Regions from separate parts of the Homo sapiens genome. Here region 1 is linked to region 2. The links come from fine-mapping of genetic effects on gene expression. A gene starts in region 2. The other region holds a variant in brackets. All regions are shown on one strand. Distances are between the middles of the regions.

Region 1 (5,000 bases), 63 kb after region 2:
GCTTTAATGAACTCTAATGGTCGTCACGGTGGCTTACGCCTGTAATCCCAACACTTTGGGAGGCTGAGGCGGGCAGATTGCTTGGGCTTAGGATCCAGACCAGCCTGGGCAACATGGCAAAAGCCCGTCTCTACAAAAAATAAAAAAATTAGCTGCGCATGGTGGTGCATGCCTATAGTCCCAGTTACTTGGGAGAGCGAGGTGGGAAGATGGCTGGAGCCCGGGAGATGGAGGTTGCAGTAAGCTGACATCACACTACTGCACTCCAGCCTAGGCAACAGAGCCAGATGCTGTCTCAAAAATAAAATAAAAATAAAATCTTACTAAAAATCATTGTTTTATCATATAAAAAATAAGAGGAAAATTCTGGTGGAGGTCTATGAAATTATTTATTACCATGAAAGTAGTGTGAGTCAAAAGAGATTGAGAATCGTGGGACTAGCACATTTTTTATTTTTCCTTTAGTAGAGGCAGCTATATGTTGGAATACACCGAGAGACAGTATAACATATCGATTGAGGGCTCTTGGAGGAAGTAGACTTGGTCACTTACTAGCTGAGTGACCTTGAATGAGTTAACTAACTTCTGCATTTCAGTTCCCTCAAGTGAAAAACATGGGTAATTATACCTTCCTCATAGGTTATTGTGAAGATTAGGAGTTAATGTGCTCTTTTTTTTGTTCGTTTTAAAATAGCAGTTTTAAAATAGCAGTTTTTTGTTTTAAAATAAGGAAGAAAAAAATTTTTTTTTAAACTTTTTCTGCTACTGGGTGCTAATTATATTAGTTTAGGGCTATTTGCAAACTTCCTTTAAGCCATAAGACCTAACTGCTAATAGTTCGTGATTTAGGGGTGATTTGTACAATCTGTTGACTTAGCTTTATGAGTTCAAAGTCAGATTTTTGGTTTTGATCTTGGTTTTCTAAGCTAAGGCATCTTTTTCTCTGGATATAATCTTAACAATGAGAGATTTGGGTTGCTTTGTAAGGCTGTAGGTCCTTAGATTGTAACAATTTACATTCATTTGAGTGTATTTTTTTAGTATGTCTTTTTTTCTTTTTTTTCCTAATCATATAATTATGACCCCTGTTTTCCGTCTTTTGATTTTAGGACCGTATCCTTGATGAGCTTGACAAAGACGATAGTACCCATGAGTCTCTGTCTCAAGAATCAGAGTCGGAAGAAGATGGGATTCATGTAGATTCACAAAAGGCTCTTGTTTTAAAAGAAAAGGTACTAATTAGTTAGGTTTTGTTTTTTTTCATGTAAGCAGGAGATGTTGAAAATCATGTGGATCGTAAAGTTTCTTGAGCATAGTTTTAGTACGTGTTTAAACTTTATGTTGTTTTTGGCTACATCCCTCTCTGGAGGCATTGTAACATGGTGGTTAGGAGTACATGCTCTGGAGCCAGATTACCTGGGTTCAAATCTCTGATAAGTTCTTTAAACTTCTGAACTTCAGTTTTCTCATCTGCAAAATGATAATATTACCAACCTCAACGGGTTCTTATGGGTAGTAAGTGAACTATTCTATGTAAAATGCTTGGACTGTACCTGGAGTTGTCCAGTGTTTTTAGTAGTAGATTGAAGTAACTTGAAATTAGTGTGTGATTCTTGGCGTAAATATTATATTCCACTCCCGGGTATCAAAGGCTATCTTTGGTTACTTTTTGGAATGTTCAGTATCTCCCTGAGGGATGCCTCATTATTATAAAACCAGCTATATTACTTTCACAAAGGTGGAACTCTTTTCAGATTAAACTCTTGATGCTTTTTTTTGGTTACATTTCTGTAGGTTGGCATTGTCAATAAGGAGTATAATGCTGGGTATTTTACTCATTTTTCTGCCTGGGCTCTTGGGTTGTACCCATACAGTGACCATGTACAGTTACCCTTGAACAGTGTGGGGTCAGTGCCTCATGCAGTAAAAAATCTGCATAT[A/G]ACTTTTGACTCCCCAAAAACTTAACTACTAATAGCTTACTGTTGACCGGAAGCAGTATGGATAATACAAATAGTTGATTAGCACAAATTTTATGCGTTATATGTATTATATACTGTATTCTTACAAAAAAGTAAGCTAGAGAAAAGAAAATGTTATTAGAACATTTTAAGGAAGAGAATGTGTATTTATTTATATAAATATATTTCACTGTGTAGAAGTGGATCTAAAGTCTTCATCTTTGTCATCTTCATATTGAGTAGGCTGAGGAGGGGGAAGGGGAGGAGTTGGTCTTGCTCTCTCGGGTGGCAGAGGCAGAAGAGGTGGAAAAGGTGGAAGGGGAGGCAGGCACACTTGGTGTAGACTTCTATTGAAAAAAATCTACATTTAAGTGGACCCATGCACTTCAAACCTGGGTCGTTCAAGGGTCAACTGTAGTGAATTTCAGAATTTGTAAAAAAGATCATTTTATATAATTTTCTTTCAGGGCAATAAATACTTCAAACAAGGAAAATATGATGAAGCAATTGACTGCTACACAAAAGGCATGGATGCCGATCCATATAATCCCGTGTTGCCAACGAACAGAGCGTCAGCATATTTTAGACTGAAAAAGTAAGGACTTTCTGTGACGTGTGTGAATGTGAATGTCTTATGTATATATGGAGACTTATTAAAAAAAAGTGTGGAATAAAGTGTGGAGGACAGATTGAAAATGTATTGCATTTTCTTTTCAACTGTAAATTCTTATAGCTCACTCCTTTTTATTGAATTATTTTGTTTAAGCCATTTTAAACATCTGGTGCTAAAACCTTGTTCCCATAGCTCACTTTACTGAGGTATTCCTCTAAAGATTTAGTAATAGTGTTCTTTTCTAATTCACAAAGCTAAAAAAGTTAGTTGGATATTTTTAGAAATTAATATCCTGTCATTTTGAAAAACCATTTATCCACTATTTAATCTAGAGAACATTTATTATGGAAAACTTAAAATATGTTTCAACATTTGTTTGTCTTTAAGTCATACTGACTTTTAAAGTAAATAATGTGGAAGAATATAAATGTGGTATTGTCTTATCACATGCAGGTAACCAACCTATCATAGGGGTTTTTTAAAAAGATAAACACCATCAAGGAAGACATTCTTACTGTTTTAATTATTTGGAAATACAAATTTTATTGGTATCTGAATTTTTACTATTTAACATTTTTATGTCTTTGAAACTCATGATATTAATCTCTAAAAATTAGGGGAATATTTACATTTTATAATATTCGATATCTGCAATATATGTAGCATATACATAAATTACAGAGAATAGTTTAAAATAAGCCTATAAAGCACCCCTCTCAACTTAAGAACCAGAACATTACCATTATTTTTGAAGTTACCTTGATGCTCCTTTCTGTATCCTGTCCCTTGCCTCCCTCCCAGTTAACCACTATCTTGAATTATATATTTGTCATCCTTTTGATTTAAAAAAGGTTTATTATATATGTATATGTTCCTAAATAATATATAGTATAATCTTGCTTATTTTTGAGCTTAAAAGTATATCATACTGTGTGTAGTTTTCTGTGGCTCACCTATTTATTATATTTTTATGATTCATTCTTGTTTTGATGCTTATAGCTCTAGAGCTCTCATTGTAACTGTTATATAGGATAATTTCTTTTTAGAAATATACCATTATGTGTCTATTCTTGTGTTGCTGGATTGTTGGTTCGTTCCTTTCTTCCTTTCTTTTTCTCTCTCCCTCCCACTCTTTCTTCCCTCCTTCTGTCCCTCTTTCTTTCTATTGCCCACCTTCTGTCCTTTCTTTCCTTATTTCAGCAATGCTATGAACATTTTTGTACATGTTTCTTGGTGTTGGGTCATAAAATGTGTAGATGTTCAGCTTCACAGGATGATGGCAAAGGTAGTTTGTTGTTACACAGTTGTTACAAAGGTAAATGGATGAGTTTACATTCTCATTAGCAGTGTATAATAATACCTATTTCCTACCCTTACCAACATTGATATAATTGGGCTTCTTAATTGTTTTCAATCTGGTGGGTGTAAAATGGCATTTCATTGTGTCTTTGAAATGACATTTTGCATTTCTCAGCTATTAGTAAGGTTTTCATTTCTCAACTATTAGTAAGGTTAAGCATCTTATATATTTTCCATTTTTGTTTTTTTCTTTTTTTTCCCTGTGAAATGCCTATTTGGTGTTTGGCCATTTTTTTTTTTAGGGCTTTTCCTATTGATTTATTTTGAGAGTTCTTTATTCTGGATAACTAATCTTTTGGTCTTTTCCATAATAACTATCTTCTCTCAATTTGTAGCTTATCTTCTTTATGGAATTTTAATGAATAGAAACATTCAATTTTAATATATTTCAACTTCTTGATTTTTTAAAAAGATTAGGACTTTATAAAATGATTTGTTCAAAAAAATAGTTTGCTGCTTGAGTTCCTAATAGTCTCCTCTAATTTCTTCTAAACATTTTTAAGATTTACTTTTCACATTTAGGTGTTTTCACATATGCTGAAGGTTTTTCCAGCTCTATTTTTGGAATAGCCCTACTTTCCCCCGTGGATCTGCCGTGCTACTATTGTCATATGTCATGTTTGCCGAGATCACTTTCTCATCTCTGTTCTTTACACTGGTCTGTTGCCTGTCCTTACATCCATTCCACACTATCTTTAATTATTATAGCATTGTAATTGTAAGTCTTAATATTTAGTGTACTGCATATTCTCCTACCTTTTATTATTCAGGAATGTCTTGGGTATTCTTGGACTTTTACTCATCAATATAACTTTTAGAATCATCTTCCCAAATTCGTTAAAATATCCTGTTGGGATTTTGATTAGAATTGCATTAGATTTATAAATCAGTCTGGAGAGAATCATATTGTATGTTTTTGTACTTTATTATAGATGAATGTGAAATATCTCCACTTAGATTGTCATTAATGTCTTTGAAAACAGTCTTACAATTTTTTGCATCTGTGTTTGGTAGGTCTTTGTTAGATGTTTTGTTTGTTTGTCTCTTGTTGGTCTCTCGTAGTCACCTTA
Region 2 (5,534 bases):
TTTCAGAGGCAGGACTGCAGAGTGGTAAAGCACACAGGGTAGAAACCACCTGGGCAGAGTCACTCATGGCTCTACCACTTCCTAGTATGGGACCTTGGGCAAGTCATTTAACCTCTTTGTGTCTCAGGTCCCTCATCTGTAAAATGGAATAACAAAAATAACAACCTTATCTCATAGGGTTGTTGTGACAATTCAGTCAGTGAATATATACAAAGTATCAAGAACAGGGCCTGGTGCATGTTGACTATTCTTATTATTATTTATCTGTCTTAACACACCTGCCAAGCATTTAATGACAGTCAGAGGAGGGTGGAGGCGGTACCAGGACATGGCATGATTGTTACCATCTTGCTTGCATGTGTTCCTCAGACACATTCCCAGTCCTCTGCCCCTTCTAGGCCTCAGCCTTGATCAAATATCTGCTGAGCAGTAATTCTACTGTCGGGTCCCCATCCAGGGATCCTGAGAAGGCAAAAACCTGCCCCGTCATCTGCTTTGATGGCAGGCTGGGGGCCTTGCCTGTTAGAGGTAGGACAAGCTAGAAATGGGACACATAAAAGATCTACTCCCTATGATCTCCCCAGGCTAGGAGCCAATAGGTAATCACCCCAGGTCCTCTTCTCAATCTCCCCAGAGAGGGGGAATGAAAAAGAAATGGAAAAAAGAAAGGCAAGAGTAGTGTTGAAGGGGAACATAGGTGGGGGAGTGGGTTGGGACAGTTTCATTTTCACCGATTTGAGTGATCCTTGGCTCCCTGAGGCTCCCCCACACCTCAACACAAACATATTCGATTTCCCCCCTGCCTTTTTTTTTTTTTTTTGAGATGGAGTTTCGCTCTGTCGCCCAGGCTGGAGTTCAGTGGCATGATCTTGACTCACTGCAACCTTCGCCTCCCGGGTTGAAAGAATTCTCCTGCCTCAGCCTCCTGAGTAGCTGGGATTCCAGGCGCACGCCACCACGCCTGGCTAATTTTTGTATTTTTAGTAGAGACAGGGTTTCACCATGTTGGTCAGGCTAGTCTTGAACTCCTGACCTCATGATTCACCCCCACCTCAGCCTCCCAAGGTGTTGGGATTACAGGCGTGAGCCATCGCACCCGGCCTCAATTTTCCTTTTTTGAGTAGACTCTCCTAGGCAGTCTAGTCTACATTAGAAGAATAGAATACATACAGAGTATACGCAGTATACCATGGTGAGTACGTGGAGACAGACAACCTGGATTCATGCCCCAGCTCCACCATTTACTAGCTGTGTGACTTTGGCAATTTCCTTAATATCCCTGAGCCTCAGTTTCCCCATCTGTGACGTGAGGATAACAGAAGTACATACCTCACAGGATCGTGGCAGGGATTAAACACATGGAAAGCACTTGAAAGAGTGCCCGCACATGATTAGATTTTGTAGCTCTGCTGAAATGTATACAAGTGTCCTGCCTCACTCCCCAGCATCTTCCACCTGCCCAGAGTAAGGGCAGCAAGAATAGGAAATAGGGGACCCCTTTGTGACCCAACTGCCAGTCTCAGGAAGCCTTCCTGCAAGAACTTCTAGGCCAGGGCACTGGCCCCAGCAACCCGAAACTCATGACTCCATCCCCCTAACTCTTCCCCATGCATACCTGTGACTCCCAACTTGTCATCCTTTCCTGTCAGTTTCCAGGTTGCTCTTCCTTCTTCCAAATTACCAGAACTCCGTTGAATGGATTTGGGTCTGAGGTCAGATTCATTCTCAGGCTTTCCTCCTTCCCCGGAGAGGCATTTAAAACTCCACCAGCGTTTCTTAATGTGTGGACACAGCAGATGACCTGGGGTGTTTGTTCCAAATACAGATTTTCCATTTCATGCCAATAGGATTGAATATGAATTGCTGGGGACGGAGCCTGCATTTTAGTAAGCTTCTGGGAAACATTTTTTATACATGTATACATTAAAAATGGGATTTTAATCACAATTAAAATTTCTCTCCCCACTTTCAAGAAAATAATAATTGGTGGAGGATGGGGGCTTGGCATCCCAAAATTGGGAGTATAGGCTTCTTAGAGCTACCTCTTCCCAGTCTTCTCCTCACTTTCAAGAAAATAATCATGGTGGAGGATGCGGGCTTGGCATCCCAAAATTGGGGTATAGGCTTTTTAGAGATACTTCTTCCCAGTCTGGGCTGGCTCAACAGCAAAGGGAAAAGGGAAGAGAAGGGGCAAAAAGTCCTAAAAAGCTGGGGGTGGGGCGTTCACCTCCTTCCAAACCCTCATTATCGTCCTGAATTACGGGTCGCTGTCCCCGGCCACTGTCTCTCCACCCTCTCAGGAGTGGGGCGAAGAGGCCCGCGCTGGGCCATTTGCACAGTGGTGGAAACTGAGGCCCAGGGAGGCGTGGAGCCTCGGTAGCAAGCCTGCCTAGCAGGGCGCTGGAATGCCCGGTCTCCGCCTCAACCTACCCGGCCACCAGGGAGCGCGCGGTAGGGGGCGTGGTACTCGAACACCTTCTGCTCCCCTGGAAGCTCTGCCACAACCCCAATCTCCTCTTAGGGCCCCTACCCGTTCTGGAGAGCAGTCCTTCCTCTCCAGCCTCAGTTTCCTCAACTGCTCCCGGTGTGTGTGTGCTGGGGCAGGGGGCAGTGGGGCGTGGGTCTGGGAACGGAACTGTGGGAGGCAAGGCAGCGGGATTCCCCGCGGGAAAGCCGCCTATTCCCTCCCCCGGGCGGCTGGAGACCCTGAACCGAAACAGGAGGCAGACACCCCCAGCCGGGAAGCGGCCCCAGCCCGGATTTCCCTCCCGGGTGAGGCCGCAGTGACTCACCCCCTCCCCGCTCTCCCCGGTTTCCTTGTTTGCATTTCTCCTCCCGGCCACGTGGCGGCCAGTGCAGCCACTCACCGCCGGATCCCTGACACCCCGGCCGTTGCGGCCTCCTCCACACACTTCGGGGCCGCTCCTGCCCCCTGGGGATACTCTGGGCTCAGGCGGATGTCCACTCTGGTACCCCCGGGTGCGGACTCCAAAGCCTGCCAGTGCCGGCCCCCTTCCCCTACGCATTCCTCTACCGTAAGGCAGGGCGCCTCCACCCCGCCCCCTCCGCCAGTCCTGGGGAGGGGAAGGGGGCGGGCAGCGCAGGGGGTGTGACAGCTCCCGCCCGGACCGGTGCCAGCGCAGCCTTGCTTCAGCGCCCGGTGCCAGCTGGCTCCTTCGTCTGAGACGAAGGCGCAGGCTCGGGGCTCCCTGTCGCCGGTGGCTGGGTGGCGTCCCCCCACCACGCCCCCACCCCTCTACTCACCCAAGAGGAGCCTCTCCACCGAGCCCTGCATCCTGCTGCCCTGGCAGCCAGTCCAGCTAGGCACTGGCCCAGTTCACTGTACCTGGACTTACCCACTGGCACCCTCCGGATCCCCTTATCAAAGCTGATGGGGGTCGCTGGGGACCCCCCAGCCTTTTGCTAGAGCCTGCACGGCTGTGCGAGCTTGAAAAGAAACATGAAGGTGGGTAAGGTGGGGTCAGGGTTGAGGAGGAGCAGGAGAGGGCGGGAGAGGAAGCTGACACGGTGGGGAGTTTGGGTGGGAGAGGGAGGGTTAGTCAGGGCTGAGGAGGAGAGGAGAAGGGTTTAAGCCGAAGCTGCATTTCTGGGAGACCTAGTGAATCTATAGCTTCATACTGGGAGGTAGTGGAGATCCCTGCAGGGGCATGGGCAGTGAGATGGGACAGAATTCCAAAGAGGACTAAGAAGGGCCTGATCTTTTCCAAGAGCCAGCTGGAGACCCCTAAGTGCGCCAGACCGGCAGGCCCCAGTGAAGGTCTTCCTGTTCCTCCCCCCAGCTCCTGGCAGGGTTGCAGCACCTCCGCCTGACCAGTCCAGAGGACTCTAAGGAAGTAGTTCTGCCTGGGGCAGTTGTACTGTGGCCCAGCCGCCCCAGTCGTGTCCCATGGCTGTCCACTTTCCTCCCCGTGTCACAGGTGGGCTGGCCAGGTGAGAGCTGCTGGCAGGTGGGCCTGGCTGTGGAGGATAGCCCAGCTCTGGGAGCACCGCGGGTGGGAGCCCTCCCTGACGTGGTGCCGGAGGGGACACTACTCAACATGGTGTTGAGAAGGATGCACCGGCCCCGAAGCTGCTCCTACCAGCTGCTGCTGGAGCACCAGCGTCCGAGCTGCATCCAGGGGCTGCGCTGGGTGAGTACCTTTCACCTGCCCAGGTGCCAGGGCCAGTACCAGAGCTAGAGGGGGGCCTAGATCATGGCTTGGCATGCTGCTGGTGGCCCAGCTTGCTCTGGGGGTGTACAGTGGTACAGCTGCCGTGGACACTGGGTCAGGAAGCTTGTCTGCAGTGTGCGTGGGTGGCTCACACAGCTGCAACGTGTGTGTGTCTGTGTGTGTGTTCTGCCCAAATGTCTCTGTTTGGGCATGGGGGGAAGGGGAAAGGGATTTGTTGTTTATCTGTCACCTCAGTGAGCCGGCATTGAGTTAGGTACTTGTGTGTTCTTTCCAGGTGGAGGTGGGAGGTATGGGGGCCGGGTCAATGGGTTGGAGTGAGGTAAGCTTGGTTACAGTTCTGGGTGCATCACCGTGGCAACATTCTCCTTTAGTGAGTTACTGAACTGTGCTAATTCTGCGTTTTGGTCTTAGGGTGAGGTGATCATGTGGACACTGCTTGGTACCTGCCTTTGGGGGGCTCAGGGAAGGATTCTGAGACATTTGGAGAATCTGAGATCACCAAAGTGCCCTTTGCTAGTGAGAAACATCTCTGGACCTGAAAGAATGAAGGAGAGAGCAGGGAGGGGAAAGAATGGTGGGATTTGGGAGGCAAGATAATGGCTGTACTATCCAAATCAGCAGAGAAGCTATCCCCAACCATCCAGACTAAATAGAGTAGCTTAGCTTGAGATTCAGTTATGTCTCCACTGCGTGTGTCCACCCAGGTTTCGCTATGTTGCCTAGGTAGGTCTTGAACTCCTAGGCCCAAGCAATCCACCTGCCTTGGCCTCCCAAAGTGCTGGTATTACAGGCGTGACCCACTGCGCTTGGCCGGGAGAGTTCATTTCTTTTTTCTTTTCTTTCTTTTTTTTTTTTTTAACCAGAGTCTTCCTCTGTCACCAGGCTGGAGTGCAGTGAAGCAATCTTGGCTCACTACAGCCTCTGCCTCCCAGGTTCAAGTGATTCTCCTGCCTCAGCTTCCTGAGTAGCTGGGGCTACAGGTGTGCGCCACCACGCCCAGCTAATTTTTGTATTTTTAGTAGAGATGGGGTTTCACCATATTGGCCAGGATGGTCTTGATCGCTTGACCTCGTGATCTGCCCACCTCGCCCTCCCAAAGCACTGGGATTACAAGCATGAGCCATTGCGCCTAGCCGAGAGTTCACTTCTTATTGGCAAGTCCTTTTGAGTGGAATAACCACCACCCTCTCCCTCCTTCCCCCTACCTTGCCCAACTGCCATTTACAGTGAGGCTGAGTTGAAAAAACTGAGACCTACCAAGATGAGGGGCTCCTCTTTGCAATCAGAATTGAGAGGAGAGTCCACATGTCAGTCCTGGTAGAGCTGTTCTCTACTAGGGTC

What was found. PIP is the estimated chance that this variant, and not a neighbour inherited with it, causes the effect. A credible set is the group of variants that fine-mapping cannot tell apart.
Region 1: its variant is the best candidate, but not a certain one, in a credible set for the expression of RAPGEF3 in whole blood (TOPMed, PIP 0.85).

Annotation. Positions count from the first base shown.
Region 1 is chr12:47,693,829-47,698,828 of GRCh38, reverse strand. RPAP3 (RNA polymerase II associated protein 3) reads left to right here. Exons shown (of 17, transcript NM_024604.3): 4 at 1,110-1,232; 5 at 2,426-2,553. Among named protein-coding and RNA genes, the nearest start is that of RPAP3, 9.7 kb to the left of the region's middle. The variant A/G (reference allele first, on the strand shown) is at 1,941.
Region 2 is chr12:47,756,483-47,762,016 of GRCh38, reverse strand. It overlaps RAPGEF3 (Rap guanine nucleotide exchange factor 3), which reads left to right and starts at 3,137. Exons shown (of 28, transcript NM_001098531.4): 1 at 3,137-3,466; 2 at 3,939-4,151. The coding sequence starts at 3,461. It also overlaps a transcript of SLC48A1 not described here. RefSeq lists enhancers at 2,589-3,257, 3,258-3,926 and a silencer at 2,968-3,317.